4 separate regions of the Homo sapiens genome follow, and regions 1, 2 and 4 are each linked to region 3. Evidence: fine-mapped expression QTL. A gene starts in region 3. Each other region holds a variant in brackets. All regions are shown on one strand. Distances are from middle to middle. Region 1 overlaps EIF2AK4 (eukaryotic translation initiation factor 2 alpha kinase 4). Region 2 overlaps BMF (Bcl2 modifying factor). Region 3 holds the start of EIF2AK4 (eukaryotic translation initiation factor 2 alpha kinase 4). Region 4 overlaps FSIP1 (fibrous sheath interacting protein 1).

Region 1 (8,107 bases), 39 kb after region 3:
AATGCACCCTAACAATGAGGTTGGCCAAAATGACAAATATGATGATAGAATCACAGATGGAAAGTTTCATTTCCATCTTCAAAATGTCACCTTTAGTGTTCTGCCTTCTTCATTGATGAAGAGTAATTTAGTCAAGGTTAGCAATAGCATCATGTGTTGTTAAAAACAGTACTGGGAGGTTTAAGTAGAAGTACCTTTCCTTTCCCGTTTAGTAGCAAAATGAATGGGCTCGGTAGGTAAAACTTTCCTAGTTCTCTTCTTAAATAGCTGTATGCTCTGTCAGTTTTAAACTTGAGATCAGCACAATTTCTTATTCTTTTTTTTTTTTTTTTTTTTTTGAGATGGAGTCTGGCTGTGTCGCCCAGGCTGGAGTGCAGTGGTACGATCTCAGCTTCCTGCAAGCTCCGCCTCCCAGGTTCACGCCATTCTCCTGCCTCAGCCTCCTGAGTAGCTGGGTCTACAGGCGCCCGCTACTACACCCGGCTAATGTTTTGTATTTTTAGTAGAGACAGGGTTTCACCATGTTAGCCAGGATGGTCTCAATCTCCTGACCTCGTGATCCGCCCACCTCGGCCTCCCAAAGTGCTGGGATTACAGGCGTGAGCCATAGCGCATGGCCTTCTTATTCTTTTAACAAGATTTTTCTTTAGACTATTTTGTATACTTCTCTCCCTGGAGTGGTTTGATAGACTGTGCTTGGTTAAGGAGCTGCCAAGAACTGTTTTTATGAACTTTGCTGTCCAGCCCTGGTTAACAAAAGAAAAATGCCATTCACAAAGAATGAAAACAGCAACCTTCCATTTGTAGTTATATTTTTACATATTAGTGAACACCCTTTGGAGCAAGATTTTGTTTCAAATCAGCCTCTGTGATGGGTAAGACTCTGGAGTCAAAACATCTGGGTTCAGGTCTCACCTCTATGTCCTACTGGCTGAGTGAATTAACCCCCTGCCCTGCGTTTCCTCCTCTGTGAAACTGGGATAATAGCACTGCCTACCTCATGAGGTGGTTGTGAGGATTAAATTAGTTAACAGCCATAAAGTGCCTGGCACTTGGCCCAGACTGAGTCAGTGCTGGTTTTCATCACCATCCTCAGTAGTGAGAACTATGAAGAAATGTGGGTGTTGCCAGGCATTTTATCCCTTTTTGTTCAAAGCTGAACCTTTTCTATATACGGCTACCCTGTTGCCAAAATTATTGATTCAGAGAAGTTCATTTTTAAAGTGAGATCTTGGTGGCTATAAATCTCTTAAAAATACTGTGCATTCTAGGTAGGCTGTAACATTTTTCTGATCCAGATTTACTTTCAAGTCAATAACATTTATGTCACAGTTGAGTTACAGTTGATAACGCAATTCAGAAACCCAACAGGGCATATATAGGGATGCTCATTGCAGCATTTTGTGAAAATGTGAAAAATTGGAAATAATCTCAACAGTAGGAGAATGTGTAAATAAATTCTGGTAGGTCCACGCCTATACAGAAGTTTAAAAAAAATCTTTAAGTACTGGCTTAGAAAGAGCTCCAAGACACATGGTGGAATGAAAAAAGCAAGCTGAAGAATAATGTATATAAGATGATATTGCTTAAAAAAATCAAAAAACAATACTATTTTGTTTGGATGGTTGTATGTTTATGTGTATAAATGCATAGAAAAATCTCTACAATGAGACACCCTAAGTGGAAGAAAGAATTGGAAGGGGAGGTTGGTCAAAGGCTTTATCATTATCAGTAATGTTTTAATATTTGCAAGGAGAAGGTATATATGTTTTAATGATATAATTAAAAAGTAATTTTAAATTTAAAGGAAAATACGGTATCTTATACAAATGGTTTTATTAGAATTTTTTTGCCTGTTCAAGCTATGAAATTAGGAGTACCTTGCTTTTTACTGCTGCAACATAAAAAAAAGTTACCATTTATGATAGTTGCTGTCACCACTTTGTATGTATAGATTTTTAAGTCCAGAACTCACAACGACAGTTGATTCTTTTAAGTATATTGTTTTAATTATAGGTCAAGTGCTACCAAGTCGTACTACTTGGGCCGTTGTAATGAAAGTAGCTTGGCATGGTGGTTCATGCCTGTAATCCCAGCATTGCAGGAGGCCTAGGTGAGAGTATCTCTTGAGTCCAGGAGTTCAAGACCTGCCTGGGCAACATAGTAAGACCTCATCTCTACTTTTTTAAGTATTCCAGCACAGCAGGGCGTGATACCTCACACCTGTAATCCCAGCACTTTGGGAGGCTGAGGCAGGCAGATCACTTGAGGTCAGGAGTTCAAGACCAGCCTGGCCAACATGGCAAAACCCCATATCTACTAAAAAGACAAAAATTAGCCATGCATGGTGACACTCACCTGTAATCCCAGCTACTTGAGAGCCTGAAGCAGGAGAATCGCTTGAACCTGGGAGGTAGAGGTTGCAGGTTGCAGTGAGCCAAGATAGTGCCACTGCACTCCAGCCTGGGCAAGAGAGCAAGACTTCGTCTCATAATAAAATAAAATAAAATGAAAATAAATAAACAAAACATTCCAGCATGGTGGTACACGCCTGTAGTCCCAGTTACTCAGGAGGCTGAGGCAAGAGGATGCTTTGAGTCTAGGAGTTCGAGGCTGCCATGAGTGATGATCGCAACACTGCTTTCCAGCTTGGGTGACAGAGCAAAACCTTATCTCAAAAAAAAAAATTAAAATTAAAAAAAAAGGCCAGCTTAAATCAGTTACAGTTTAACTACTTAGACTTTAACTTAGACTTTAGCTTGCATTGAAATCATTTGGAGCTCTTGTTAAAGCACAGATCACTGTCCAAACCTCCAGAGATGCTGATTTACTAGGTCAGGGGTATAGTAGAATTTGTATTTCTAACATTTTTTAGGGGATACTGATGCTACTGGCCAGGGACCCCACTTTGAGAAGCCCTGGGTTAAAGGTATGGCTTGTTTTTCTTCATTAAAAAACAAAACAAGAATTGTCTATTACACCATTAAACAGTAAGTTAATGGGTTCAAGGAATGAAGATTAAAAGAAAGTATATGAGGCCGGGCACGGTGGCTCACGCCTGTAATCCCAGCACTTTGGGAGGCCGAGACAGGCAGATTGTTTGAGCTCAGGAGTTGGAGACCAGCCTGGGCAGTGTGGTGAAACCCTATCTCTACAAAAAATATAAAAATTAGCCAGGCCTGGTGGTGCCTGCCTGTAGTCCCAGCTACTGAGATGGGAGGATTGCTTGAGCC[C/G]GGGAGGCAGAAGTTGGAATGAGCTGAGATCACACCACTGCACTGCAGCCTGGGCGATACGGCAAGACCCTATTTCAAAAAAAAAAAAAAAGCATAAACCAATTTTTAAAAAAAGTATGCAATAGAATATGGGACTTTAAAAAAGCCTTCCCTAAATGTTTCCAACTTGCTTCATCCTGTAATGAGCAGGCTTCATCTAAAGCTCGTCATACTGAGCCACTCTGCTGCACCAACTCTCTGATTTGCTTTGTCTTTCGAAAGCTTTATTTATAACCGGTTCCTGCAAAGGCTTAGTTTGGCATGACAAGGCATTAAACTGTTCATCGAGGTGAAAATTTATAGCCTACTTGTGCTACCTTAGACTTTTAAAAAATTGTTCCATGAGGGTAAGTCTTCTCATCTAGAGATGCCTTTTTTTGATTCGCCTCTTGTACCCAGCCTGTCGCATAGCATGTAAATCCTGCAGGAATGTTTATTAATTTAAATTCACCTATGAGAGTACATTCTGGTCTTTGAGTAACATGAATTCTATAATGTGTATCTTTAAAAAATAAACCCATAGTTAATGCCTTGGATTAACTAGTTTAGCACTGATTGTTTGTGATGCTAAGATTCTTCCTTCCCTCTCACCGAGATGTGTGTGCTTGGATGACAAGGAAAGATGGAGTCCCCAGCAGTTGTTGAAACACAGCTTTATAAATCCCCAGCCAAAAATGCCTCTAGTGGAACAAAGTCCTGAAGGTGAGTCTGTTACCTTTCTTTATTTGGTAACCTGTTTGACATTAAATTATTTTGAAAGTATACATAAACCAAAAACTGGAAGGGGCTGCATGTGTTATTTTATGTCTTTTATTCTGAACTAAATCCATTAGTTTGATGTGTGCCATGTGCATGGGACTGTTTTGCCACCCTGATTTTTCTAGTCTCTATTGATGGAATGAATGTCCATTGCTGTAGTCTCTTGTAGTGTTTAGTCACCCATAGTGCCATGTAACTAGATTTTTCCTGCTGCACCTGAGATTAAGGAACCTCGGTAGAGATTGGGATGGATCATGAGACCTGAGTTTTGGTTCTAGCTCTATAGTTAAGTCACTTATTCTATATAATCCCCCACCTGTAAACTTGGGCTAATTATATATTTCTGCCTACTTTAAGGAGGGCAAGGTGAGGAAAAGTTTTAAAAGGCCACTCAGGTAAGAGGTAATTTTTCAAACTACTGGTTGGAGCTCTTCTTCCAGGGCTTCCATCATTGTTGGCTATGTAGCTCTTCCTAAATTTCCAATGCCTCATGTGCCTCTTACTCCCTGTTTTATCTCAGATTCTGAAGGACAAGATTATGTTGAGACTGTTATTCCTAGCAACCGGCTACCCAGTGCTGCCTTCTTTAGTGAGACACAGAGACAGTTTTCCCGATACTTCATTGAGTTTGAAGAATTACAACTTCTTGGTAAAGGAGCTTTTGGAGCTGTCATCAAGGTGTGGTACAGAGTCATTCCCAGTCCCCTTTAGAGCTCCTTCTCTGTTCCATTTCCACAAAGACTCATGGACTTTACTTTTATTTTGGGAGTGGGGAGGGAAGTGAATATGGCTGTTGGATACTATGCTCATCCTCACCTTCCTGGAGTTAAAGGTTTTATTTAAGTTACGCTGGACACAGTTGAGAATTGTCCCACTCCTCTTTCCTTGCTTCATGTGGAGCATTAACATGAAACACACATGGTTATAACAGCACTTCAAGTGGAATCAAGACCTCCACAGAAAGAACATTTTTGTGTGCTTTGGTTCAGAAAGAACATTGTTCTTTTTTTCTCCTGTTTGCTGTTAGAGTTGCTGTAGATAAAAAGGTTCTAAGGTTAGAAGAGAGATGGACTTCAAACTGGGAGATGGCCCCAGCAGGTCTCGATGGCTTTTATTTTCCAGCTATTATTGGGACAGGAAAGTAGCGATGTATTATTAAGGTACACTGTTGTTGGGTCTTCCTTTCTTCGTTCTAGTCTATTTGGGTGACTTTTATTATTATCTGCCCCTTGTAGAAAGAGGTTTCAGCTGTTTTTATATAATAGAAGTATTTCTTTGTAAATTAGGAGACCCAGATTATTGTATTAAGTCCATATACAGTACATGTCATCTTTCACATATGAAGGTAACCCACCATCAACTGAGTATATTGTCTGTTAAGGATTCTGAGAGTATCATTAGGAAGCATTACTGTTACTGTAGAAAAACTTTTACACTAAAAAAGGAATTAAATTAGTTTTCCTGTGGTAAAAGACAGACAAGCAAGACAGATGTCCTGATCAGAAAGATCATAATTATGTCTAAGAGGAGGGGATGATTGAAGCGTATACTGTCCCTTTAACACAATATCATTTTGATCAAATCCTTTAACTTCATTCTATTTTAAATTCTTGAACGTAGAATAGTAACAAATTTCATCTCTTTACAAGTACTTAATAATGATAGGCAAGCTCATATAACAAAAACATCTGAGTAACTTAAGCCCCCACGGTTTCCAGTAGTTTCTCCCTGTGAGAATCCACAGCCCTCACCTCCTACCTCTGTGCTTCTGTGTCAGAGTAGGGCAGCCTGCCCAGTGATCTGGCATTCATTAGCAGTTGGACCCATTACTGTTTCTGCACCTTTTCACTTCAGTAAATGAATTCCTAGGGGTTTCCAGTATAGCAAGCTTTACTCCCAACCCAGTTCGTATATGATGTGTACTGAGACAGGAGATCGAAAGGCAATGCCAAGATCCCCACCTCCCGCCCTACACTGTCCTCTTCCCTATTAATGTGGCAGTAAAAGAACACAGGGCTATCATTTTTTGGAGCACCTGCCATATTTCAGATTGTGTGCCAGGTGATTTACAAACCTTGTCTTTAAATCTCAGGACATTCTTACGAGATGGGTATGATCCTCATTCCCTAGATGAGGGAACTGAAGCTCAGAGAAGGTTATGTCCTTTGCCTGAGATAAGGGAGATAAAACCAGCATTCAGACCCACCTCTGTTGTACTACAAAGTGTGTGTTCTTGTCACTATTTCCATACAAAAAAAGATAATCTGAAACTCAATTTTGTAGTACTTCCTTCTTATTCCCAGGACTTCACTTAGACTTTTATTAGTTTAATTGAAACTTGTGAGCCAAACAAGAGAATGATATTCTGTTTTGTGTTTTGTAATCAACTAATTTCTCCTGCCACCCATGGCCACATGGCATTTGCTTTTCTAGAGTATATCATCACCTCAGTTGACCTGCACGGATGTGACTACAAGGTTTCAGTGAATAAGACTCTGTAAAAGTTACTTCAGTCACCCCAATTACATAGTGAAACTGCCTGGCATAAGGATGCCTCTATGTAGGATGGGAGGACTTGCCTTTGCAACGTTTTCTTGCTTTCTTATTATTTTACTGTGTTGTTAATTGTATTGTTCTGGTTTCAGTATACATCATCTTAGGTATATAACAAAATCAATGGGCAGTGATTGTGTTAATAGCAATTGCTGTTATTGACTAAGCTAAGCACCTTTCTCTGTGAGGCCTTGATACAAGTGCTTTACAGTCACCATTTGGGGTAGTGGAAATGGTATAAATGCCATTTTAAAGATAAGAAAATTGAGTCTCAAGGAAATTAAGTAATTTTCCCAAGTTCACACGGCTTTAGAAATCAAGGAATTAACCTTTGTGTTCAGGTCTGTTAATATTTTTGGTGTTTAATTTGTTTTTAGTGACTTTAAGTGTAAAAAAAAATCAGAGAGAAACTAAAATCATCTGAAACTTTACACTGACTTTAGAAAATAATTTTTAATCTTAAAATCAAGACACTTAGAAATTTAGATAGCAGATACATTGGAAAAGCAGGGAGGTAACTGTCAGTAAAATTAATTATTAAAATGGAGATTATGTTTTCCCCAGGGTCTCCCAGCAAGCTAAATATATCTAGAGTCGGGTGGGCTGTTTTCTGAATTTTGTGGCAGTCAAAGCTTTCTTCAGTTTAAGAATTTCAGGCATGTGGTTCTTGACTGTAGCTGTGGGACTCATTTAGAACTTCACGCTTTCCTTGGGAGGGGATGGGGTGCGGTGCAAATGCCTGTTTGTGCAAGGCTCCGAGCGGCTGACCTTCCCCTGGCTGTGCCGCAGGTGCAGAACAAGTTGGACGGCTGCTGCTACGCAGTGAAGCGCATCCCCATCAACCCGGCCAGCCGGCAGTTCCGCAGGATCAAGGGCGAAGTGACACTGCTGTCACGGCTGCACCATGAGAACATTGTGCGCTACTACAACGCCTGGATCGAGCGGCACGAGCGGCCGGCGGGACCGGGGACGCCGCCCCCGGACTCCGGGCCCCTGGCCAAGGATGACCGAGCTGCACGCGGGCAGCCGGCGAGCGACACAGACGGCCTGGACAGCGTAGAGGCCGCCGCGCCGCCACCCATCCTCAGCAGCTCGGTGGAGTGGAGCACTTCGGGCGAGCGCTCGGCCAGTGCCCGTTTCCCCGCCACCGGCCCGGGCTCCAGCGATGACGAGGACGACGACGAGGACGAGCACGGTGGCGTCTTCTCCCAGTCCTTCCTGTAAGCGCACGGCGCGGACCAGCTGCCTCTGATGCGCCCCCTAGTTTCCTTTCTTTATTTTTTTTTCCTTTTTCCTTTCATTTCCTTCCTTCCTTCTTTCCTTCTTTTCTTTCTTTCCTTTTTTGAGATAGGGTCTTGCTCTGTCACCCAGGCTGGAGGTCAGTGGCGCGTCCTTGGCTGCAACATCCGCCTCCCGGGCCAGCGAATGCCCCCCAACATTAATCCCCACCAAGTCCAAGCCAGGGAAAAGGGGATTCATTTAGAAATCCAGACGTGTTGACCATGTTTAAAAACAAAAACAAA
Region 2 (8,097 bases), 160 kb after region 3:
AGGTCTTGCAGGGGACCCAGGCAGGCCTAGGTGCAGGAGGCAGGATACATGGGCCGGCCCTTGGGAAGGAACTAGTTTCCATGCCTCTGCGTGTGACAGTCCTTAAGGCTCATGAATTGGTAAGGAAGGCTCTATGGTGCATGGATCCCCAGGGACCAGGAATCAGAGGACCTGGCTTTCGGGTTGGATCTCCCATCAACCTGCTCATGAGTTCTCTCTTGGCTTATAAGGAAAATGCAGGTATTGTACTAGATCAATGGTTTCTAAACCCAACTGTGTCACTAAGCCAGCTGAGGTGCTCTTGTAAGTATAGAGTCTCCAGGCCTCTCCCAGACCCACTGGGTCAGAATTTCAAGGAAGGGTCCCAGGAATCTGTATACTGAACAAGCTCCCTTGGTGACATTTTAGAGATCAGAAATCATTTATTGTATATTTTAATCATAAAAGCAATACATGTTAATTGTAGAAATATTGGAAAATACAAGACATTACAGAGGAGGAAATAAAGTCACTCATGATCCTCCAGGCTAGAAAACACTTCACGTGTTGGTGTTTTCTTCAGTCCCTTTCGATCTCTTTCCACCAAAGTAATGTCTTACCCCACTGGCCAAGCCAGAGGTCAATCCTGCCCAGGTGGTTCTGTGGCAGCCAGGCCACAGCCTTTTGGAAACCACAAAGGTGCTCTCCAACCCTAAGGAGTTTGTCATCCACGACTACCTTCAGGATTACAACTCAGAGCTCCAACAACTGAATTCTGTCAGCTGAGTGTAGGGCCTGGGAACCACCCATGGGCCCATGAGCCCTCTCTGGCTACAAGCAGATACCACACAGGCTCCCTTTGGCCTTCTCCCGCCTCAGGGCAGCCCTCACAAGACCCTTTTCCATGAGGAAACCAAGATAATCAAAGAATGCCCTGATTACAAAATACAACAATAAATAAAATTTTTCCTAAAAGTTTAACAAAAGGGCCTGACTAGAAAGGAAAGAAAAAAGACTTGAAGGGAGGCCAGTGGGAGAAACAGTGAGGAGGAAGGAAGTTGGCCTTCACTGAACAGGATGAAGAACACAAAGATACCAAAACACCAGAGAACGTGGGATCTTCCACAAGAGGGTGTGGAGGAGAAGGGGAAGAGAGGGGAACCAGGAATGAGTGTACTTGGCCTCTGACCCTCAGGCACCCGGCACAGCACCCAGCGCACAATCTGAGATCAACAAGGGCAGATCCCCAGAACCAGGCCTGCCCTCCTAGACTCAGCTAGGGAACCCCTCACAGAATGGGAGTTCCCAGAATACACAGTCAGGGTGACCCAAGGGTCGGGGCTGGGATACAGAGGAGGGGAAGCTCACCCTAGAGCCCTCGGACTCACATGGTTTAGAAGGCAGGGCCAAGGAATGGAGGGAATGAATAGAGGTGAATGCCCCCAGGGAAGGTGCCCTAACATGGTAGATCACGGTGTTCTCTTCAATGAAGAGAGCACAAGCAGGCATCAGAGCCCCATGCGGCTTCTTTGGCCCAGCCTCATTTTCTTGCCACGGACAGGGGATGAAGGCAGTCAGCTGACAAATGTTTCAATCCCTACTGTGTGCAACACCCTATGCCTGAATGCACAGCTGCTCATCCTGTGTAATGGGGAACATGGAAGGCATACAGTAGGCACTCAACAAGGGCATGCTGGACCGACTACAGAGGAGTCAGCCCTGAAAGATAACCCACTTGTCTGAGGCCAGGAACAACTGATGTCTGGCCAGGTCTAAAGATGTACTTTATGTGATAGTATCAGCCTCACACCTGGGGAGAGGCCCAACTAGTAAAAGGCCTCCTTTTTTTTTTTTTTTTTTTTTTTTCTCTAAAGAGCTGGCTGTGGTGTCTGACAAGGTTGGATTACATAAATCAAACTCTGTTTCATCCCACACAGCCTCTGCCCTAAGCACAAAGCGTGTTCCCTACGCTCCCTGGATAAGAATCTCCCTCTGCCTCTCCCCTTTTCAGATCCAATTCATACCCTCTGGGGGCTCTGTGTGTCACCAGTGTTCCAGATGCTCCAGCTAGAGCTAATTCACCCCAAAGTATCAGAGGAAGAAGCAAAGCGAAGCCGTGTGCAGCTCTAAAAGAACCTAACTCACAAAATGCAAATTTACCAAACAGAGAGCAACTTATAATATCTCAGATACAGAACAGAGCACTTTCCTTTCTTCTCATGTGATCCTCACGATAGGAAGAGCAGGTATTAATCAACCCATTTTAGAGCGACGGAAACAATGGCTCAGAAAAGTCATCCCAAGTTAGTTGGGAGGGGTGTAATTTGAGGCCCTGACTTCTGACTCCAAAGCTATGTTCCTTCACTAAAATTTTACAGTGTGTTTATTGACATTATGAAAATAGCATTACCTTTTTCAAAGCAAATCACCACTGATCTGCTCCCCTAGTATGCTTAAAGACATTGTTTCCAGATCATTAACTATTTAGTAAGGACGCTGTGGACCAGAAAAAAATAACCCTTTCAGAGGCAGAGCTAACTGAAGATCAAACAGAAATAAAGCTAAAACTGGTCTGAAATTATAACTTCAGACTGTGATCTGAAACCACACTCAATCTCTTCAAAATGCAGAATTGTCTATACTCTAGGGGAAGGTGCACAGTCCACGATGTGAAGTTTTCCTCCCTCTTCCCTTTTCCCTGTCATTCTCTAAACCTACTCAGGCCAAGGCTGAAAGAAAGAGCCTTGCAATTAAGAACAGGAACATTGAGAGCAGGAAAATTCCTGCTTGAAGGAAGCTAGGAAGATGTTTTCTGTTGAAATAAGGACATTTTAATGAAGCACCCAACTGAGCTATCAAGCACCCAACTGAGCTACCAAGCACCCAACTGAGCTACCAAGCACCCAACTGAGCTACCAAGCACCTAACTGAGCTACCAAACACCTGAGCTACCAAGCACCCAACTGAGCTACCAAGCACCTAACTGAGCTACCAAGCACCCAACTGAGCTACTAAGCACCCAACTGAGCTAAGAGTTATGTGGATACAAAGATGATTAAAATATTATAAACTTGGTTCTCAATTGTTTTACAATATAATGGGGAGAAGAGCAAGAGCACCTAGCTGAGTATCACATGAGGCAGAGCGGGTTGGGGCAGCAAATGTGTGCTTCCTTGTACCCTTGTTTTCCGGAATGTGATTGCTGGGCAGCAGGTATGGGGCGATTGGACCATGGTTCCAGAATCCATCAAATCTGTATGACGCCTAGCTCAGCAAATTACGGTGTGACTTGGACATGTTACCTCACTTCTCTGAGCCTCAGTTTCCTATAACACAGTGGCAATGGAGTCTAAAAGTCCAAGGTTGCTGTGGTGATTACGTAAGAAAAATATACATGAAGCACTGGGCCTGGGGGCTGCAAGGAGCAGGCTCCTCCTTCCCTGGGGAGCACAAGGAAAACCTGGGACTCACTGGCTTTGCAGAGCACGTCTCTCAATATGCTCTGCAACAGGGCCGGCCTGGGGAGCACCATCTTCCCGGCAGACTCACGAAATCCCTGGGAGATCCCTGACTTTCTGCTTTGAGACTGCCCACAGCAGCCACAGGCCATGGGGCTCAGGATTCTAGGCTGCCAGGGTAAGCCAAGGATTCTGAAACCCAGAGGGCAACCCCTTGGACCCAGTGGGCCCACTGCCTCAGACTGCTTCTGACCCAGAGGCCCGAGGAACGAGCAACGTGGCAAAACGGAAAAGGAAAAAAAAGACTCCTTGCCAAGAGCTTCCTCAGCCCAGCCAGCAGTGTTAACAGGACATTGAAGCCACCATGGCCACGCCCATTGCTTCTCTAAGGAAAAAAGAGCAGTCCGAAGCCAGCCAGCTCTCAGTGGAAGATGGCAAGGCTTCCTCTAACGCAACTGGAAGACACTGGCTCCAGCCACTGGGGGTTGAGGGGTACGGTTCGGGGACAGAGCTGTGCTGCACCATCCATGTCCCCAGACCCTTGTTTTGCACCTCCACAGCCTGGAGGGAGGAACTACTGAGACCCTTACTCAGTTTCCTTCAAGCTGAGAACAGCTCCATCAAACTACTGGGCAACTTCTTCAGAGCTCAGAAGGGCACAATGGTGTGTGCCCTGGTTAAAGAAGGGAGAGGGAGGGGGTTCGGGGGACAAGCCTGTTGTGTGTATTATGCTATGCAAAATAACCCCAGGTTCTGACACTCGACTTGGGGTCTTTTCAGCTGACTGTTCATGTCCTGTCCAGGACCAGGTCAAGGCAAACCAGGCAAGGAGGAAGGATGGAACCCTCCCCTTCACACACGGACTGATTGTGTGCTCTGGTCATGGAACATGACCTCTTGGCTGCCAGACA[T/A]GGATCAAAAGGCAAACCAGTCATTTTTCTTTAACCTTCTTTCTTTGTGTCTCCCTTAGTCCCCTCCTCCCATCACCCACTTTCCAAAAAAAAAAGCCAATTTCCATCCCATGGCAGGCCTTGGTGGGGAGGGAATGAACTCTCCGGAACTACAAGGCCCTTCTCCTGGAAGAGAGAGCAGTCAGGTGCAGAGTGTGTGGGGAACTCAGCCTCTAGTCTGCCACGCTGATGACTCAGAAGCTAAATATAGCGAGCGATATAAACAGAGCCAGCCACAGAGCAAACACAGGGCCCCCAGCCCCGGCGCTGGCTCTCACGCACTCTGGCTCTCCGCAGTCCCTCCCCCAGCCTCATTCTTCCCCTGGCACTGTCCTAGGTGGGCCTCCCACTCCTGGGACAGAGGCTGGCTTCCTAGGGACCCATCTCACTCTATAGCAAACCTCTGGGGCCCCTGCCCGGGGCTGTCCCATCTAGACGCTGAGCAACCTAGTTAGCCAGCTTAAGTTCCAGAAAACCACTCACTAATAACTAGAGAATCCCAAAGTGTCAGGAAGCAATCAGGGGCTCCCTGAACAAAGGATCCAGTCTGCTAGGCAGAGAAGCTGCTAGTTAATAAACCATGCAAACACCAACTCGGGTACAACTTCCAAAAGAGCTCCCCAAATTACAAAGTCAGGTCCAAGCAAAATCCTAAAGTCATCTTTTAACATATTTCTAAAAGTACTCAACTGTCCCTGACTTAATAGTTATTTGTATCACAACTCCTAAAGGCCCTTCACATCAACTAGGCAAGGTAAGTATTAGAAACCAAGACTAAGCCGGGTGCAGTGGCTCACACCTGTAATCCCAGCACTTTGGGAGGCCGAGATGGGCGGATCGCCTGAGGTCGCGAGTTCAAGACAAGCCTGACCGACATGGAGAAACCCCGTCTCTACTAAAAATACAAAAATTAGCCAGGCATGGTGGTGCATGCCTGTAATTCCAGCTACTCAGGAGGCTGAGGCAGGACAATCACTTGAACCCGGAGGCAGAGGTTGCAGTGAGCCGAGATCGCACCACTGTACTCCAGCTTGGCAAGAAGAACGAAACGCTGTCTCACCAAAAAAAAAAAAAAAAAAAAAAGGCTTGGAGAGATTACATGATTTGCCCACGAACACATAACTTATAAGTGGCAGAGCTGGGATTTTAACAGATCTGCCTACAAGTCTAGGATCCTTTTTGTGATATTACAGCTAAAGATGGTTTCAACTGAGTGGCTGAAAGTTTTCTCAGATTTCATTTGCCAAAAAGTCTAATTACTATTCAGAGATTTCCAAACCCGGCTTTTCTGAATGGAGCCACTCCTGGTCCAAGTGAAAAAGCCATTTCCAACATGAAGAATTCCAACCCTCCTGTAGCTTTACTCACTCGACTGTTTACAGTAACTACTGTTTTTGAGGATTCTTGGCTTCTTAACATTGCCCAGAAATACCCCCAAATGTCATGATGGGCCACTGGGACAGAAGACTCTCCCAAGGGGAGGGGATACCACTTCCTGCCCCTCCTTAGGCTCGTGCTGAATGAGGCCATGGCACAAGGACAGGAAAGCTGGGGCTCAGACCTTCTGGCCAGGGCAGCCCAGGGGCTCAGGGAGGAAGTACATCTGCACCATGCTCTTCCATGCAGAAGCTGGACACAGAAGCACCACAGCACCACCCTCAAGATAAGTCATTATCAGCAGACCATCGGGGGTCCCTGCCACAGTTTGTCAGCTCACAGAGGAGCAAACAGGGGAACCTTCACTCCTGCCCCGGCCAAAGGAAGGTGGGATGTGTGGTGAGGTTCTGAAAGGTTTTTACCTCCACTCACTCTGCCTCCAACTCTCTTGCTGCTTTGGAGACACAAAGAGCTGAGGCGGAGCACCCTGCTAACTCTGATCTTCTGCCTCCGGTTTTTTGCCTGTGGATCTGGAAGAGTCACCCTGAACTGGTAACTCGGGTGACCAGGCTAGTCCTCCACCTAGCAAGGCTCTTGGGAAATGCGCTGAAAGTGCAGATGGCCCACGTAAAACGACACCCAGGGAAACTTGGAACCTGTTGCATCTGGAGCCAGGTCGATACACTCAATTGGGATTTCATGGCATCAGCACGCCCCCTCCCTCTGCTCCATACCTCCAAGGGAGAAGGTCGTTCTGGTGCAAAAAAACGAGTAACTCAGGTCTGTAACCAGGGACAAAAAGGGGGAGTGCACACTCTCCACAGGACTATGGACCAGTGGCCACTGTCTAGCCCCAGGACACTATCCCAGATGTAGGGGAAAGGTGACGGTCAGGCCTCCTCAAGTCCCATCTGCCTCTAGGGTTGCTTTTCTTGGCTCTCTAAATCCAGCCCGCAATGATGGGGAATGACTATCATTCCCTGAAGAGAAATCGATAAGGCCAAGGTCCACAGATGATCAGTCTGGACACTAATTCCTCTGGACCAGGCAGGTGGAGGGAAGTTCAGGGGAGGCAGCTCTGCTCAGGGAGTCCCCTGCCAGGTGGAGTGGGAAATGAATTGTGAACCAACAAGAACAAACGTCGGGGGTGATCAGGATCATAAACAGAAAGAAGGAAACAGGCATTAAAGAACATCTACTGTGTGTCCCAAACTCTCATAGGTATTTTCTCACTTAATTATCACAGTAAAATTCTGTGGTATTAGCACTAATTCATAGAAGAGGAAATAGGCTCAGTGAAGTCAAGTGACTTCCTGAAAACTAGTAGATGGCAGAGCTGGTATTCAAACCTGGGCTTTCTGACTCTGAACCCAAAGCCTAGAAACTAAATCCTAAATAACCTCCTTCCCACTGCCTCAGTTTCTCTGCCTGCAAAAATGAGGGAAGGGAATAGGGAAAGAAGATAAAGGATAAGAATGGAGGAGTGACAACAGTACTTTCTAGATATGAAATCTTAGACTGTAGTTTATATAAGAATCAAGCTTAGAAAATGACTCACTTCTCAAAACCAGCTGCTGAAACGTTCCAGGAGTACCAGTGTTCCACCTGCCTGAAGCCATCACCTTAGCCCTTCCTGCAGGATGAGTTCCTGGTGAAGGTCTATAAGTAGGGTCAGTGGGGAGGAGGGGGTTAAAAGCAAGAAGACTCTGGGGAGAACTGTTTAAGGAGAAGACAAAACCCTGGCTCTTTGTACTGGAAAATTTGGGAAAACCAGCTCTTTGAGCTAGAAAAGGCTCACTGGTCAGCCTCCTACCCTTGTAAGTAAGAAGTAGGTAGATGGCAGGAGGGTAGGGGTACAGGAAACCTGGGAGCCAGTGTGGAGTAAGGTGCAAGGCAGAGGAGACTCTCATGCCTTGCACCTCCACTTTCCTTCTCCCCAGCTTGGGTGGCTCTGGCTAAAAGCACAACACCTTGTCTAAAACTAACCTGTGCATGCAAAGAGGCAGCTCTGAACTGGGAGAAGTGATGCCAACCAGCAAAAAGCAGGGCAAGGCAGGCGCAGTGGCTCACGCCTGTAGTCCCAGCACTTTGGGAGGCCGAGGCAGGTGGATCATCTGAGGTCAGGAGTTCGAGACCAGCCTGGCTGACATGGCGAAACCCCGTCTCCACTAAAAGTACAAAAATTAGCCAGGTGTGGTGGTGCGTGCCTATAATCCCAGCTACTCGGGAGGCTGAGGCAGGAGAATCGCTTGAACTGGGGAGGCAGAGGTTGCAGTGAGCCGAGATCATGCCACTGCACTCCAGCCTGGGCGAAAGAGCCAAAAAAAAAAAAA
Region 3 (8,107 bases):
TACAGCAACCAAATGCAATGTGTGGACCTTGTTTGAATTTTGATTCAAACAAACCACTGTAAACAAAACAAAACAAAAAAATGACCTTTTCCTTTTTTCATTTAACAGTTTATTAAGGTATAGTAAACATATAACACATTGCATATATTTAAATTGTACAGTTTGATAAGTTTTGATATATGCATATACTTGTGACATGATCACCACAATCAAAATAATGAATGTATACAGACATCACTCCCAAGAGTTTCTTCTTGTTCCACTTTAATCCCTCCACCTGGCTCTTCTATGTCCTCCCTATCCCCAAGCAACCACTTATCTTCTTTCTGTTACCAAATTTGTATTTTTCAGAATTTTATGTAAATGGAATTATGTAGTGTGTACTCTATGTCGGCCTTCTTTCATTCGGCATAATTATTTTGAGTTTGTCTATGTTGTTGCTGTATCTATAATGTATTTCTTTTTATTGCTGAATAGTATTTCATTGTATTGATATACCTCAATTTGTTTATACTTCAATATGTCCATCTTGTGTTGGTGGGCATTTGGTTTGTTTCCAGTTTGGGGATATTACAAATTAAGGTGCTACAAATATTTACATACAAGTCATTGTATGGACATACGCTTTTGTTTCTCTTGGGTAAATGCCTGGGATGGAATTGCTGTTTCATATAGTAGGTATATGCTTAAGTTTTTAACTAAAATGGATGATAGGCCAAAAGGTAAAATCTAACACTATCTAGATGAAGACATAGAAGAAAACCTTTTTGGCCTTGGGATAGGCAAATATTTCTTAGATATGACTGCAAAACATAATTCATGTAAGAAAAAAATGACAAATTAAATGTCCTCTAAAGTAAGAAACATGCTCTTTGAAATACAGTTAAGAGAATGAAAAAGCAAGCCACAGACTGGGTGAATATTTTTGCCTGTCACATATCTGATAAAAGACATGTCCGGCCTGGTGCAGTGGCCTACACCTGTAATTCCAGCACTTTGGGAGGCTGAGGCGAGCAGATCACGAGGTCAGGAGTTCAAGACCAGCCTGGCCAACATGGTGAAACCCCGTCACTACTAAAACTACAAAAATTAGCTGGGCGTGGTGGCATATGCCTGTAATCCCAGCTACTCGGGAGGCTGAGGCAGGAGAACTGCTTGAACCCGGGAGGCAGAGGTTGCAGTGAGCTGCGATCGCACCACTGCACTCCAGCCTCGGTGACAGAGTGAGATTCCATCTCAAAAAAAAAAAAAAAAATACATGTCCAGAATATATAAATATTTCTCAAAAGTTAATAAGAAAACAAAAACAAAATTTTTAAAATGCACCAAAGATGTGAATAAAAACAGAAGACAGACGATATATGAATGGAAAATAATCACATGAAAAGATGCCCAACATCATTAATCATTAGGATAATGCAAGTTAAGACACACTGAGATACTGCTAAGCACCAATTACTATGTTTAAGATTAAAAACATTACAATACCAATTACTGGCAAAGAGGTAGAACAACTGGAACTCCCATAAACTGATGGGAATATAAAGTGGTACAACCACTTTGGAAAACACTTTGACAGTTTCTTATTTTTTTTGCTTTGAACTTTGACTTTAAAATAATTTCCAACTTACATAAAATTTTCAAGTCACTCAAAGAGCTCTCATATATCCTTCACCTAAATTCTCCAATGTTCAACATTCTACATTTGATTTAGCATCATCTCTCTTCTTTTTCCTGAATCATTTGGGAGCTAACTGCATATTTAATACGTCACTGCCCCCTTAATGCTGCATTTGGTATAATACTGCCATGTAATCCACAGATTCCTTTCAAATTTTGCTGTTTGTTTTAATTATATCTTTTATAGGTCCAGCGTCCAGTATAGATTCTAATTTTACACAATGGAAATATTTGAACATAGATTAGGTATTAAACGATGCTAAGAAATTGTTAATTTTTTTTTAAGAGACAAGGTCTTACTCTGTTGCCCAGATTGGAGTGCAGTGGTGCAATCACAGCTCACTGCAGCCTTGGACTCCTGGGCTCAAGCAATCCTCCCACTCAGCCTCCTGAGGGTGGGACTACATGTCACCTCGTCCAGCTAATTTTTTATTTTATTTTTTGTAGAGATGGGGCCTCGCTATGTTGCCCAGGCTGGTCTCAAACTCCTGGCCTCAAGTGATCCTCCACCTTGTGCTGGGATTACAGGTGTGAGCCACTGTCCCTGGCCAAAGGGTTACATTTTTAGGGTATAAGATTAGTAATATGTTATGTTGGTTCCTTTTCTAGTTAGAGATATATCCTTAGGTATTTATTTTTTAAAATGATATGATTGAGACTTAAAAAAAACACTCCTGAGGGATGGAGAGAAGAGATGAAATAAAATTGACAAAATATCTATGGTTGTTGAAGCTGGATGATGAGTACAGAGGAGTTTACTTCTAAGTATGTTTGACATTTTCATAAATATAGGTTTAAAAGAATTTTTTTAAAGACCAATAGAGAAATGGAGTAATTTTAAGGATTAGAGTGCAATGGCCATATTTGCAATTTAGAAACATTACTCTGGCTGCAATAGGAAGAATGGCTTAATGTGGGGCAAGAATGAAGACAGTGACTAATTAAGAGAGTTATTGAAGTAACCCAGGGAATTGGTGACAGTAGCCTGAACTAAGTTAGTGGCAATGGGTTAGAGTGTAGTGGATGGACAGAAGTGGTGACTATTTGGATGTGAGTTGAGAGAAAGGGAATTCAGAATCACACTCAGTTGAATGGTGCCATTTACCTAGTCAGAGATCACTGGAGAAGGAACGGGTCTCCAGCAGAGGGAAGATGATGATTTAAATTGGCCTTGGGTCAAGCTAGTGCATTTGTGTTATCTGGCCAGAAATGAGTGGATAGATGGCAGCAAGGAATTTACACAATCATTATTTAGTGAACAGTGGAGGAGTAAGCAAGGTAGACAGAAGAAACGTCACTTAAACCTAACTTGGGTTAGTACAATAGGATTATTCGAAATGGACATGCAGCATTAGTAAGTTACTGAAGATGAAGTGCAATAACAATGTCTGGGTAGACAGGTTATTATTTTATAAACTTGAAAAACGACGACTTGAGGCAGGATATAACACAAAGACTCCCTAAATTCACACTGAGTGAACTGGGAAGGGAACATGATTCTCTTCATGGGAAGGTAGCTCATAAAGATGCCTGAGTGGAAAGACAGTTTTCAATTGAATTTGCAAGGTGGTAGTGGAGATCCCCAAAGCTGGGGAATGTAGAGACAGAGAACATAATGAGGGTGTTGAATCTGTGGCTCAGAGAATAAGTTTGGGGGTACTAAAGTGGGAGGAAGGAGGGTGGGGGGGGTCACAATTTTTACTCCCGGTAGTCTTGTTCTGGGAAGGTACAAGGTGAAATTAGAAGTGACCTCAGAACCCATCGACGTCTGCCCTTTAAGAGTTTCCCGGCCGGGCGCGGTGGCTCATGCCTGTAATCCCAGCACTTTGGAAGGCCGAGGCGGGCGGATCACAAGGTCAGGAGATCGAGAACATCTTGGCCAACATGGTGAAACACCATCTCTACTAAAAATAGAAAAATTAGCCGGGCGTGGTGGTGCGCGCCTGTAGTCCCAGCTACTCTGGAGGCTGACGCAGGAGAATCGCGTGAACCCGGCAGGCGGAAGTTGCAGTGAGCCGAGATCGCGCCACTGCACTCCAGCCTGGGGAACAAGAGCCGAAACTCTGCCAAAAAAAAGAAAAAAGAGTTTCCCGCACTAGCCATGCCAGGGTGGAGAAGTTCCAGCAAGCACTTCTGTTAAAGATACTTGTTTCGTGAAAACTATACAATGTGGCGTTTTCATTCCTATCTGTGATTCATTTCTTAAGTTCGTGGAGTTCCTTTGCTCCCCTTCCCCCAGCAGGATGTGGGCAAAGCTGTCCCCCTGCCTTCTTCCTTCGCCTGGGCTTCTGGAGCCTCCGGAGCTAGCTCCCGGCGCGGAGCTCCGCCTACGGCCCGTCCCCGGCGCGGAACCCCGCCCACGAGCCCGTTTCCAGCGTGGAACACCGCCCATAGCCCGTCCCCAGCGCGGAGCCCCGCCCCGCAGGCTGCCGGGGGCCCACCGCCGCCCAGGCAAGGCCGCCCTGCCTTGGGCGCAGCGCTGCCATGGCTGGGGGCCGTGGGGCCCCCGGGCGCGGCCGGGACGAGCCTCCGGAGAGCTACCCGCAACGACAGGACCACGAGCTACAGGCCCTGGAGGCCATTTACGGCGCGGACTTCCAAGACCTGCGGCCGGACGCTTGCGGACCGGTAGGAACGTGGCTTGTCAGGCCCGGGCTGGCGTGCCCTGGCCTCCCCGGGCCCTGGGCCAAAGCCCGGACACTTCCAGATTGGGCCGCCGCTTTAGGATCCTGCAGTCTTTTCATCCCTTAGGTTCCACCCATGCTCACTTTAGTCCTTGCACCTGCAGCTGGTCTGCAGAATCCCACCTAGGCCGAATTCTTCTACAGTCCTTTCCCCATGATTTCCCCAGAGGAATCCCCCTGGATTCCTCCCTCTTACCTGGCACTGCTTCTTATTCCTGCCTACATCCCATAACATAACTGCCTCCTTCCAACCTTGTCCTTTTTCCCCTCTGAAAGCCCTTGCGGATGATACCACAGCAATTCATACGCGCCCCTTGCTACTTTGTTCTGAGAACGCTTTTTGGGCTCTCGCACAGGCCTTACGTCCTCAATCAGAATTCTCAAGTCTCATCCATGCATTCAAATCTGCACGCCACATAATTCCCTCTGTACTCCCCAGGCATCCTCACTGTGTTTTCCGGTATGGAGGAACTTTCCATACCTCTGCACCTTCCTCTAAGACATTTAGCTCAGAATAAAGCACACATTCATCTTAGCTGTAGTAGAGAGAGGGTTCTAGACTGAGTCTAGAGAAGGAGTGTCCAATCTTTTGGCTTCCCTGGGCCACACACAAAATACACTAACACTAAGGATAGCTGATGACCTAAAAGAAAAAAAAAATTCGCAAAAAAACCTCAATGTTTTAAGAAAGTTTACGAATGCGTGTTGGGCCACATTCAAAGCGGCCCATGGGCCTCGGGTTAGACCAGCTTGCTCTAGCTCTAGACCTTTTAAAATGGCATTTTGTTTAAAATAATATTTTGCCTTTTTGTCTGGAAATTAAGGCACGTTATAAAGTATTTATACTGACAGTTTTTTCCCCATCCTTGAAGAGTTGATCTACCAAACTATTTCTGAATATTATCATATTATCATTTAAAACATAGTTCTAACTTCATCTGCTTTTTTTTTTTTTCTTTTTGAGACAGGGTCTTGCTCTGTCTCCCAAGCTGGAGTGCAGAGGCATGACCACGGCTCACTGCAGCTTATTCTCAAGCAATCCTTCTGCCTCAGCCTGTCAAGTACCTGGGACTACAGGCACATGCCACTACACCTGGTTAATTTTTTTAATTTTTTGTAGAGACAGAGTCTTGCTCTGTTGCCCGGGCTGGTATCAAGTTCCTGAGCTCATGCAATCCTCTCACCTTGGCCTCTGAAAGTGCTGGGATTACAGGTGTGGGCCACCGCGCCTGGCCTCTTCATCTGCTTTTAACTTTGGCATTTCACAACATCTGCTCTATCTACACATCCAGGATTTCCTCAAGAAATACCATCTTCTGGAGCTATCAGGACAAAATATTCTCTCTCAAACTCAGGGTGCTTCTTCCTTCATTAAATATTTGTTTTAGGCATTAGGAATACAGCTGTGGGCAAAACAGACAAAAATCCTTGCCCTCAGGGAGCTTACTTTTCTAATGCTTAATAATATGAAGTTATTTTTAACCTGAAATGGTAAAAATATAAATTATTCCCCTTAACATGACAGAGAAGTTGGTGACTGGGGAACTTCTATCTTCCCAAACCTTGAGAATCAGGAAGTAGGCCCAAGAAGCAGCCAAAATAGGTGTCTCAAAGTGTACATGGGACTCAACACAAAGCTCCTAAGGCTTCATTCTGAACTAGTTTGTTTACTTTATACAAGCTTAGTTGTCTGCTCCTAGGGCTGCAGAAAAATGGAAGAGAAAAAGCAACTTCTTTTAGGTAGGGATATTGATAACCTCAAGAATTTATAGCTGGTGGCTTTCATAACAAGATGGAATACTAGACAAACCAAAGCAAAAACTATAGAAGGCAGGCAGAAGAATTTAAATAGCTGTCTGTGGCCTATTGTACACCGGGCAAATGGCCTCAACACATTCATAGGACTGGCAGGCAAATAATTGATGGTCTCAAGGATGAATCAGAGTTTAGTCATTCAACAAGCACTTATTATCACCTGCTATTTGCCAGGGAAAAGTGATGCAGGTCCAAAATCCTTTATCCAAAACTCTTTATTGAGAGGGAGTTTCTCTCTGTCGCCCGGGCTGGAGTGCGGTGGAGCAATCTCGGCTCACTGCAACCTCCACCTCCCAGGTTCAAGCGATTCTTGTGCCTCAGCCTCCTGAGCAGCTGGGATTACAGGTACCCGCCTCCACACCTGGCTAATTTTTGTATTTTTAGTAGAGATGGAGTTTCATTATGTTGGCCAGGCTGGTCTCGAATTCCTGACCTCAAGTCCTCCCGCCTCGCCTCCCAAAGTCCTGGGATTACAGGTGTGAGCCACCGTGCCCAGCCTTTTATCCAAAACTCTTGAGACTTGATGGGTTTCAGAATTCAGAAGTGCTTCTGTTCACGTTTATGTGTGCACATTCCACACATTACCTAATACCTTCCTCAGTGTCTGGGGCAGCATCGAAAATCAAACACAATGAAACATAGAAATACTCAAATTTCACACTGAACAAATAAACACTATAACTAACCTCATGTCAGTTCAGGCTAAATTTGCTGCCAATAAATTCAGGTTAGATTTTTTTTTCAACTTCTTTTAGTGGGGATGTGTTGTAATATAAATTTCAGTTTAGTAGCATATGTATATCATTTATAAATAACATTTTGAGGTGCATGCTAAAAACTTTTGCATTTGTAAAAAGTTTAGACACTGCTAGTTTAAAGTATCTATAATTTATAGATAGTTACAAATTACTAACTTATTTTGGCTAGCTTTCCACAGCAGCAAAAGGTCTGCTCATTTATAATTTGATAGCTTTTGGAAACATCCCTCCAAAAAACTTGCTTCAATCCCTGGATCCCCCAGTAGTGTATGGTGGTGTTTGTTTTCCTTTATCTTCAACAATACTATATATGTTAGACTTTTTCATCTTTGCCACATAAATGAAACATATCTCATTTTAATTTTTATTTATTTATAAATTATCTAGAACACCTTTGTTTACAAACCATTGATTTTTCTTTTTCTGTGAACTGCTCATACTCTGGTTTATTTTTCTACTCTGTGGTCCATTTTCTTGTTTATTTGTAAGAGCTAAATATCTTAAGAAAACTAGCATTTTGGGTCATATAATGCATATATTTTTCTCCTAATTATATGCATTTATTTACGTAATTTATGTGATTTAAAAAATGTTGATAGAGTCAAAATGACCTTTTTTTTCTTTTATGGTCCCTGTGGGTTTTTTTTCCCCCTCTGTTCCAATGTTACTAAAAACCAAATTCGTCAAAGTTTACTTTTAACTTGTTCATGACTTCGTTTTTAAATTTTCATCAAATAAAGATATAAGTAGGTTTTTTTTTTTAAGTTCTTCGTTCCATCAAAGTACGGGCCTAGGCCACCTCCCCGTGTGCATCCCTCCTCCTCCAGCTAGGCAGCTAGACAAATATAGGCAATTGAATTTTTCAGTGTCTTCCACTCATTTGAAATGCCATTCCTACAAGCCCAGTGCCTGGTAAAACAAACAAAAAACTTTCAAAAATTGTTACTGAATGAAATAATTCTCAAATGTATTTCAAGTCTCTTTTTTTCCTTGCCTGGAATGCTTGGTCTCTTGGCTTGTCTCAGCTTCAATGCTACATCCTCAGATAGTTCTTCTTTGATAACCACATTTAAGTATATACCCTCACACCCCAAGTCGTTTGTTAAGGAGAGCACCACGTCATCTCTTCAACGGCACTCTCTAAGCTTGTACTTATGTGTTTATTATGTT
Region 4 (8,107 bases), 290 kb before region 3:
AGTCAAACCTGCCAGGATGATTCTTTTCAGGTGTGCATCTGAGACACGAGGGGAGAGACCTTTGTTTTAATTGCCCATGATTTGCTTTATGGTCTCCAAGAACTCATGAGAACTTCTGCCAAAGTAGTTTCAAATTCAGAAGCTGGGACAAATGAGCATCTCCACCATGGATGAGGAGCAGTATCTAGATACACAATGTTCAAAAGCACTTTTCAGCACTATGATTTACAGGCAAGTACTGAAAAAAAAAAACTTAGCCAAGAGGATTTTTTGAATTTGTAACTAAAGGTAAACCTGTTTTATAGCTGGCATCTCATTGTTCAGGAAATTCCAAGGCCGGCTGCCATCAAAGGTTGAGAAAATAAAATGATTTAATTCAAGTTTTCAAATTGCTGATGTAAAATGGTATCATTCCATTTCTCATCCACATATAAGTGAGCTGAACAATCATCAGGCAGTTATAGTCAAAAGAAACTTTTCAGAACAAAGCTGTCATTAAGAGATATAAAAACATTTATCCAAAGAAGACATAACAATGGCCAACAGCTATGTGAAAAAGTGCTCAAAATCACTAATTATTAGAGAAATGCAAATCAAAACCACAATGAGATATCACCTCATGCCTGTTAGTATAACTGTTATCAAAAAGACGAGATAACAAGTATTGATGAGGGCATGGAGAAAAGAGAAACTTTCTACATTCTTAGTGGAAATGTAGATTGGTACAGCCATTGTGGAAAACAGTATGAAGGATCCTAAAGGAATTAAAAATAGAACTACTGATACAGTGGCTGCTGCCATCATGTCAGCTGCAGCAGGGAGGCGTGGCTGGGGCTGCACACTCCATGGAGCCAGTGGGAGCCCTGCCTCTTCTGAGTTGGAAAGAGAGCTACGTGCCTCTGCAGCCACCCAAACTGCAGCTACAGACCCAGGCCTCCTGCTCTAGTGAGCAAGCAGGAGCCTCGCCCTCCTGGGTGAGGCTACAGGCCACCTAAACTACAGCTGTGAATCCAAGCCTCCCTTGTGCTCTTGGGGGAGCCAGGAACAGTCAGGATCTGCCCTCCTGGGTGCAGCTGGAGCCACGGCACTGGTGGCTGCAGATCTGGAACTCCCAGTTGGGAAGCAGGCAGGAGCCGGGGACAAGCGGGAGCCCTGCCTCTTCCGAGTTGGCCAGGCCGGAGCTCCTGGCTGCAGCTGCTGCTGCCCTCCCACGTGCAGGGCGTCTCTGCAGCCTGCACCCTCGGGCACCCCAGGAAGGTTCCCTGCCCCTGTCCCTGAAGGCTCAGGGGTGTCTGCTCCCACTGCCTGGCCTCTCTCCGCTCCCAGTCCCCAGCTCCAATCTCGGAGCGGGGTTGGGGCCGAGCCCCAGGGCCATGAACGGCAGCAGGAGGCAGACAGAGTCCGGGGTGGAAGGGGGCAGGGTCCCCAGTAAGGCCCCACTTTCAGGCCGTCCCTGGCCTGAACACTGGGGGCCGGGCTGCCAGTCCTGTGGACGGGAGAGGAGACTCATGGTGCCTCTTTGGCTTGCCCATGGACCAACTGGCATGCACTCTGTCCTCTCTGAACTCCATAAAAGCTCTGTACTCAGCCAGAGCAGGGCAGAGGATGGCTAAGGACGAAGAGGGCAGAGAGAATGGGAGCAGACCACAAGGTGCAGAGAAGACTACCCTGTCTGCTGATAGCTGGAGACGATGGGAAGACCAGCTGCAGAGAGGAGTACCCTCACTGCTGAGAGCTGCAGAGATGACCTGCCAGTAGAGAGGAGCTACTCACTCCTTTGAGCTGTTCTAACACTAAATAAAACTCTGCTTCTTCACCCTTCACTTGTCTGTGTACCTCATTTTTCCTGGATGCAGGACAAGAACTCGGGCAAAGGTGCTGGGGCCACAGAGGTTTCCCACCAGAAAAATCGACACCCAAGAGATCTCCTAACACTACTGGTTTGGGCCGTAATCCCAGCACTCTGAGAAGCTGAGGCAGGAGGATTGCTTGAGGCCAGGAGTTCGAGACAGGCCTGCGTAACATAGCGAGACCTCATCTCTACAAAAAAAAAAAAAAAAAAAAAAAAAAAGGCTGCGTTTGGTGATGTGTGCCTGTAGTCCCAGCTACCCTGGAGACTGAGATGGGAGGAGTACTTGAGCCCAGGAGTTTGAGCTTTACAGTGAGCTATGATTGCACCACTGCATTCCAGCATGGGATACAGAGTGACACTGTGACACACTGTCTCTTAAAAAAAAAAAAAAAGTCTAATGGAAATGAAATCACCACTTAACTTCATAAAGGTATCCACATTTCCTTGTTCATTGCAGCATTATTCACAATAGTCAAGATACTGAAACAACTGAAATGTCTGTTGATGGATGAATGGATACAGAAACTGTGATATACACACATACAGAGAAATATTATTTAGCCTTAAAAAAGGAGATCCTGCCATTTGCCACACGAATGAACATGGATGACATTATGCTAAGTGAAATAAACCAGACACAGAAAGAAAAATACTGCATTATTTCATTTATATATGGAATCTAAAAAAAGAAAAACAAAGTTGAATACATGAAGATAGAATAAAGTGGTTGTTACCAGGGGTGATAGAAGTAGTTGTTACCAGGGATGTGGTGAGACTGGTAGGAAATGGGGAGATATACATAAAAGGATACAAAGTTGCAGACATGTAAGATGAACAAGTCTGGAGGTCTAACATACAACATGAGGACTATAGTTAGTAATACTGCCTTTTATTTGAGATTCTTGCAAAAAGAGTAGATTTTACGTGTTCTTTCCACACATACGCAAAGAGGGTAACTATGTGAAATGAATGTGTTAATTTGCTTGACTATAATAACCATTTCACAATGTATATCAAAACATCATGTTGTATACTTCAAATATATATAATTTTAAAAAAGTGGTTTTTTTGGTGGTCAAAAAAAAGAGATACAAAAACAAAAGCCCTGTGGATGCATCATCTGGGGTTTATTCCACTTGACATATGAGACTCTGCCTTATGGTAGGGCTCAGGTATCCACCTCTGTCCCTTCTGGCCCTGGGCATGCCAAACCTACACCCAGAAGAGACTTGTGCTACCCTTTCCACATCTTTTCTACCCCATGACATCACTGGTATGTTACTCAGATTTTGGTGTTTTCTAACAGTCTCAGGACATAGGAAAAAAATTTACACTTAAAGCTTCAGAACAGCCATTCAAAAAATTATCACTTAATAGAATGAAAACACACATGTACCATGAATAGGAGAGGGAAGGCATTAAAAAAAAAAGACTTCTTAAGGTCAATTTTCCAAAAGGTCTATGTTTAAATGTTCTAACAAAATCTACTGCATAAGGACAAATAGATATTAAACTGTTATATTGGGAAAAATACTGCATGACATAGAATGTCTGAAATCCAAAAATAAATTAATATCACTACGCTTTGCCCTTTAATCAAAAGTAAGTTAGTCACTGGTATTTAATGCACACAAGAATCTAGTATAACATGGACACATGAAGGGGAATATCACACTCTGGGGACTGTGGTGGGGTGGGGGGAGCGGGGAGGGATAGCATTGGGAGATATACCTAAGGCTAGATGACGAGTTAGTGGGTGCAGCGCACAAGCATGGCACATGTATACATATGTAACTAACCTGCACAATGTGCACATGTACCCTAAAACTTAAAGTATAATAAAAAAAAAAAGAAAAAAAAAGAATCTAGTATAAAATTGCTACCAAAAAAAAAAAAAAGAAAAATTAGAGAAACTTGAGATTGTACTGGCAGCTTGAAATTTTCTAGAATTCTAAATTTTAATTTTAGTCTCTACCTTAATATAAGATATTTGCCAAATGTCCATAGAATTGAAGGTTTTGTACTACTCACTAACAATATATAATGTTTGCTTAACTTGGGTTTGATGTAGACCAGTGGTTCCACAAACTAGATCATAACCTTAGAAGGTGAGACATACGCATCGTAAGTTCTTAAAAGTTCTCCAGGTGATTCTCATCTGCCGTGGTTGGGAACCACTGACACAGACCAATGCTTTCCAAGACCCCACCTTGTTAGGAAAAGAAAACACAAGTATAGCAGTTAAGAACCCAGGAGTAACTCAGAAGAAGTAAGTTAAACAGATTTTTAAAATTATAGTGAT[G/A]TAAATAAGATACTAACATTGGTGCCCAAAAGTAAAGGTAGGTTGGAAATGGTGAAATGTGTGATGTAATTGGTAGTTTGGGGCCTATCAGGGAGACTTCTTGGGAAAGTCTTAATTATAAACTGAATTATAAAGGTCAAGAGTCAGTAAATCACAGAATAAAGAGGCAGGCATTTTAAAGATGACCCCTTCAAATAATCTGAGCATTCAAGCCACCAAGTAATAATGACTATAATTATCATGTGTTCTATCTTTATTTTATATCATTATTTAAAAAGGAAAGCTATTTCAGACTGGGATTTCTTGTGCAAAGTTTTTTTTTTTTATTTGGGTTTTTTGTAACTTATGGAAAATATTTCACCCAAAAAGGAATGGAAATCTTTATCCAGCCTAAGAGTGAGTGGAAGAGAACTAAGCAAACGGAAACAACCAATAGCTCAAAAGCTGAGTACCATAAACACCTACACATTTGACTGGACACGATTTCAGTCTTCTTTAAGAGGAGGGACTTAAGAGTCTTAAGAGTTTTCAGCTGGAATAAGATGTATAAGGATAAATTATGTTTATTCACATAAACTGTTTTGCAATATGAAAAGACCAAAAACACCTGTAAAGCCAGTGTGGCTCCCACTCCAGGAACTCTAGCTGGTAATGTTTCCTGACAGAGTAATTTATCCTAAATTTCACATCCTGCAAGCATAAGGGTCAAATATATTTTAGTCATAAAGACACTATAAGTTTCCGAGTAGAAATGCTTCAAGTTTTCAATCTCCAAGAACATTTGTCCCACCTATTCTGATAATACTTTACTATCCCTTTGTTTTTCAAGATACCAGAAATGACTGAGATGGAATTTACTCTAGCTTACTTCTTATATTTAAAAAGATCTCTTGCTTTTGCATTTATCTAGGCACATATAAAAATCAATATGTGACCTACTACTACCCAGACAGAGGTTAGCATCATTTTCTAAGGCTCCTTGCTCTTCACTGTACTTTGGTCTTTTCCATCCCTGCCTGACTCTACACCACTCTCAGGCTATTCTTCCCAGACACTTTTTCTACTCTGCCGTCGTCCTCTGCCCAGGAACCAACAAAGCGTTCCCTGTCGGATCAAGTCCTGAACACTCAGCTTGACCCTCTCTAATCAGAAGAATCTGCCTCTTCAACTTTATTTCCACGTTCCCCAACCTTTTCATTCTAATTAAGCCAATATCCCGATTGCCTTCCATAGAAATCATGTTTTCACTCACATACCTACTCAGTAAACACTTATTGAGTGCCAGCTGAGTGTCAGGCCTCGTGCTCATTTCTGGCCCCACACTTTTGTTCCTGCTGGCCTGGCTCAAATGCCAAGTCCTCCACAAAGCTCTCTTCAGCTGTGCTGATTCCCCACTCAGCGTCCTTATCCTCGGGATTCCCCACATCAGCATTCGCAACCTGAACTCACACAGCACTTTTCTAGAATACTTTCAGACATTCTGTTTCAAATAAATTTGGAAACTCTGGTTCAAACTCAGTTGGACAGGTTTCTCTACTATGGAATTCTCAGAGGCTTTAATAAGCTACCATCAGTTGTGAATTCCTAAGAGGGTTATATAATATTCAGAATTTCACAAAATTCCTTGGCCATAAAAATTTTACAGTATAATTGCTGAAATCCCAGGACAATCTTATTTGGGAAATGTTGCCTACTATTATTTAAAATTGGTACCACACAATTTATCACTTAATCACATTGCTGGCTATATGGTATCATCCTGTTACTTCTCTGTCTTCTTTCTATACATCTTTGTCCTTTTCAAATACCCAAAATATTAAGTCCTCCCTTATGACTAAAAGTAAAGAGTAAACCAAAAAATACTGTCTCAACCCTTGGGGAAAGTTTTCTAATATGTATTTATTTACCTCCCTGCCTTAGTAAGCAGTACAATCAATGGATCTTTGATGGCTGAGACAGGTTGAAATGGCAAAAAGACAACAGCACCACTTTTGAAAACGACTTTATGTAGACCACCTCCCTGGCCTCAGCGTCCTCATCTGAACAAGAAGGGAACTTCCCAGTTCTGACGGTCTATCGTACAGCATCTCAGCGTTGTGATTCTTAAATAAGTATTCACTGTACAATCCTATAAAGGTAAGAGCTAAACAATCAGATATCACCCCCAGAACATTCTTCGGAAGTCTCTGTGCTCTGCTTTCTTACTAATATAATAATAGCTTGTTTTCTTATGATTTTCCTCCTTCGAATAAAAACAATTCCTATTAATTTAGGTTTCCTGTCATTTGGCTTTGAGTTAACACAGGCTTTACTTGACAGGGAAGGGAATGACTCGGCAATCACAGCAACAGCCACACCTGCAGTGCTCCTTCGTTTCCCAAGTGCAGCCAGTAACTGGTCAGATGGAGTCCCAGAGGGCATGGGCCACAGAGAGAGGAAGTCATCTGATGGGAGGGTGGGCATGAACCCATGGACATGAACCCATGAAAAACAGCTGTCATGTGTCTCCATATCTAGTTATACTTCAGGTTCTAGTGGATGAACAACCAACCAACCAATTTGTTTTATAATGTAGGGTTTCCTAAGTTAACAAATCTTAAATTTCTTAAGCTTCCAGAGCCCACTGGAAAAAGATCATCACAATTCTAAGACTCTGGAAATGATGAATGTCAAAACAATCTCTATTCCATTATTCCAATAAATTTTGTGACATTGATGTGATTTTCACACAATGTTTAATGCAAAATGACAAGCAACTCAAATTTCCATATTATTCTTTTAACCATCTGTAAAAAATAGATAAATATGACATCTGGTGAAAGCTCTAATGAATGAAAAGTGCATTATTTCCTCCTCACAGCAGGTGTGTGACTTTGGGCAAGTTACTTCTCTAAGCCTCAGTTTTCTCATCTGTAAAATGGGGCTTATTTCATAGAGTTGTCCTGGGTGTTCAAAAAAATAATGTATTCAAAACACTTAACACATCATTGTGTGACTGTTATTGCTTTTTTGCTTATGGTTGTTGTTACTATGATTATCGTTTGACTAGTGTTATTGTTATAAAAAGGACAGTTAGAAAGAATTCTATTAAACCTCTGGAGATTACCTCACTTCGATTTGAAAGCCAATTCTTTCTGCACTGTTCTAAGTCAACCTATACAAATTGTTAGATACAAGTTGGAAAAGCCCATAAAATCGTGTGGTCTCTTTTGCCTTTAATAGATTCCTCCTTTCAACCACTACGTATCTATCTCCCCCAATTCACATCATCAAAGAAAGCTTAATGCAATTAAATGGGGAAAGAAGTTAAGATGAAATTAGACAAAGCCACATTAAAGCAGTCAGCTCAATTCTTGACACACAGATTGGAGGACAAATAAAGGGGTGAATGGAAGAGATGTTTTTCTTCCTAGGCAGCAGGCATAAGTTACACTCCCATAAATGTCAATAACCAGCTGTGTGACTCTGAGTGGGTTGAGAAACTATTAGAATAGATGACCTCCATAGTTCCCTTCCAGCTCAGCCTCAGAGCCCACACTGTTGCTTTCTGTAAAGTTAAGTCTGAAGGGGAGGATCGGGCTAAATATTACCATTTTAAAAAAGAATGCTAGTGCTATTCAAGAATGAAGTTTAATTCTCAGTCCTTTGGAATACAACTTCAACTCATTTACTTAGATAAATGCTTTCCAGTACATTTATTAAGAGAGCAAGAAGTGATGTTTTGATTAAAAGTGAATTCTAAACATTTGCTACATTCAGAGCAGTACTTTGTTAGTTATATTTTGAACTTGCATCTGTATTTATAGAAGCAAGTTCAACTTATATATATAGGACTAAGAGCTGTTGAAATAAAAATTTGCTATAGATTTTGCACATTTCGGGTGATTAATCAAAAGATTTCATCTACCTAAACATTTCTTTCCATTTTTTTTCTTAATCTTGGATCCTACTTA

Evidence for each region.
Region 1: its variant is fine-mapped to the expression of EIF2AK4 in whole blood (TOPMed, PIP above 0.99).
Region 2: its variant is fine-mapped to the expression of EIF2AK4 in whole blood (INTERVAL, PIP above 0.99).
Region 4: its variant is fine-mapped to the expression of EIF2AK4 in whole blood (INTERVAL, PIP 0.98).

What each region holds. Positions count from the first base shown.
Region 1 is chr15:39,969,041-39,977,147 of GRCh38, forward strand. It overlaps EIF2AK4 (eukaryotic translation initiation factor 2 alpha kinase 4), which reads left to right. Exons shown (of 39, transcript NM_001013703.4): 10 at 3,868-3,974; 11 at 4,552-4,709; 12 at 7,374-7,804. Among named protein-coding and RNA genes, the nearest start is that of EIF2AK4, 39 kb to the left of the region's middle. The variant C/G (reference allele first, on the strand shown) is at 3,234.
Region 2 is chr15:40,094,333-40,102,429 of GRCh38, forward strand. The region is part of intron 4 of BMF (Bcl2 modifying factor); the gene reads right to left. Among named protein-coding and RNA genes, the nearest start is that of BMF, 10 kb to the right of the region's middle. RefSeq lists enhancers at 2,371-2,420, 3,094-3,607, 4,254-4,823 and a silencer at 3,804-3,853. The variant T/A (reference allele first, on the strand shown) is at 4,349.
Region 3 is chr15:39,930,032-39,938,138 of GRCh38, forward strand. EIF2AK4 (eukaryotic translation initiation factor 2 alpha kinase 4) reads left to right here and starts at 4,084. Exons shown (of 39, transcript NM_001013703.4): 1 at 4,084-4,308. The coding sequence starts at 4,165. RefSeq lists an enhancer at 3,797-3,936 and a silencer at 3,957-4,366.
Region 4 is chr15:39,644,477-39,652,583 of GRCh38, forward strand. The region is part of intron 10 of FSIP1 (fibrous sheath interacting protein 1); the gene reads right to left. Among named protein-coding and RNA genes, the nearest start is that of THBS1-IT1, 62 kb to the left of the region's middle. The variant G/A (reference allele first, on the strand shown) is at 4,155.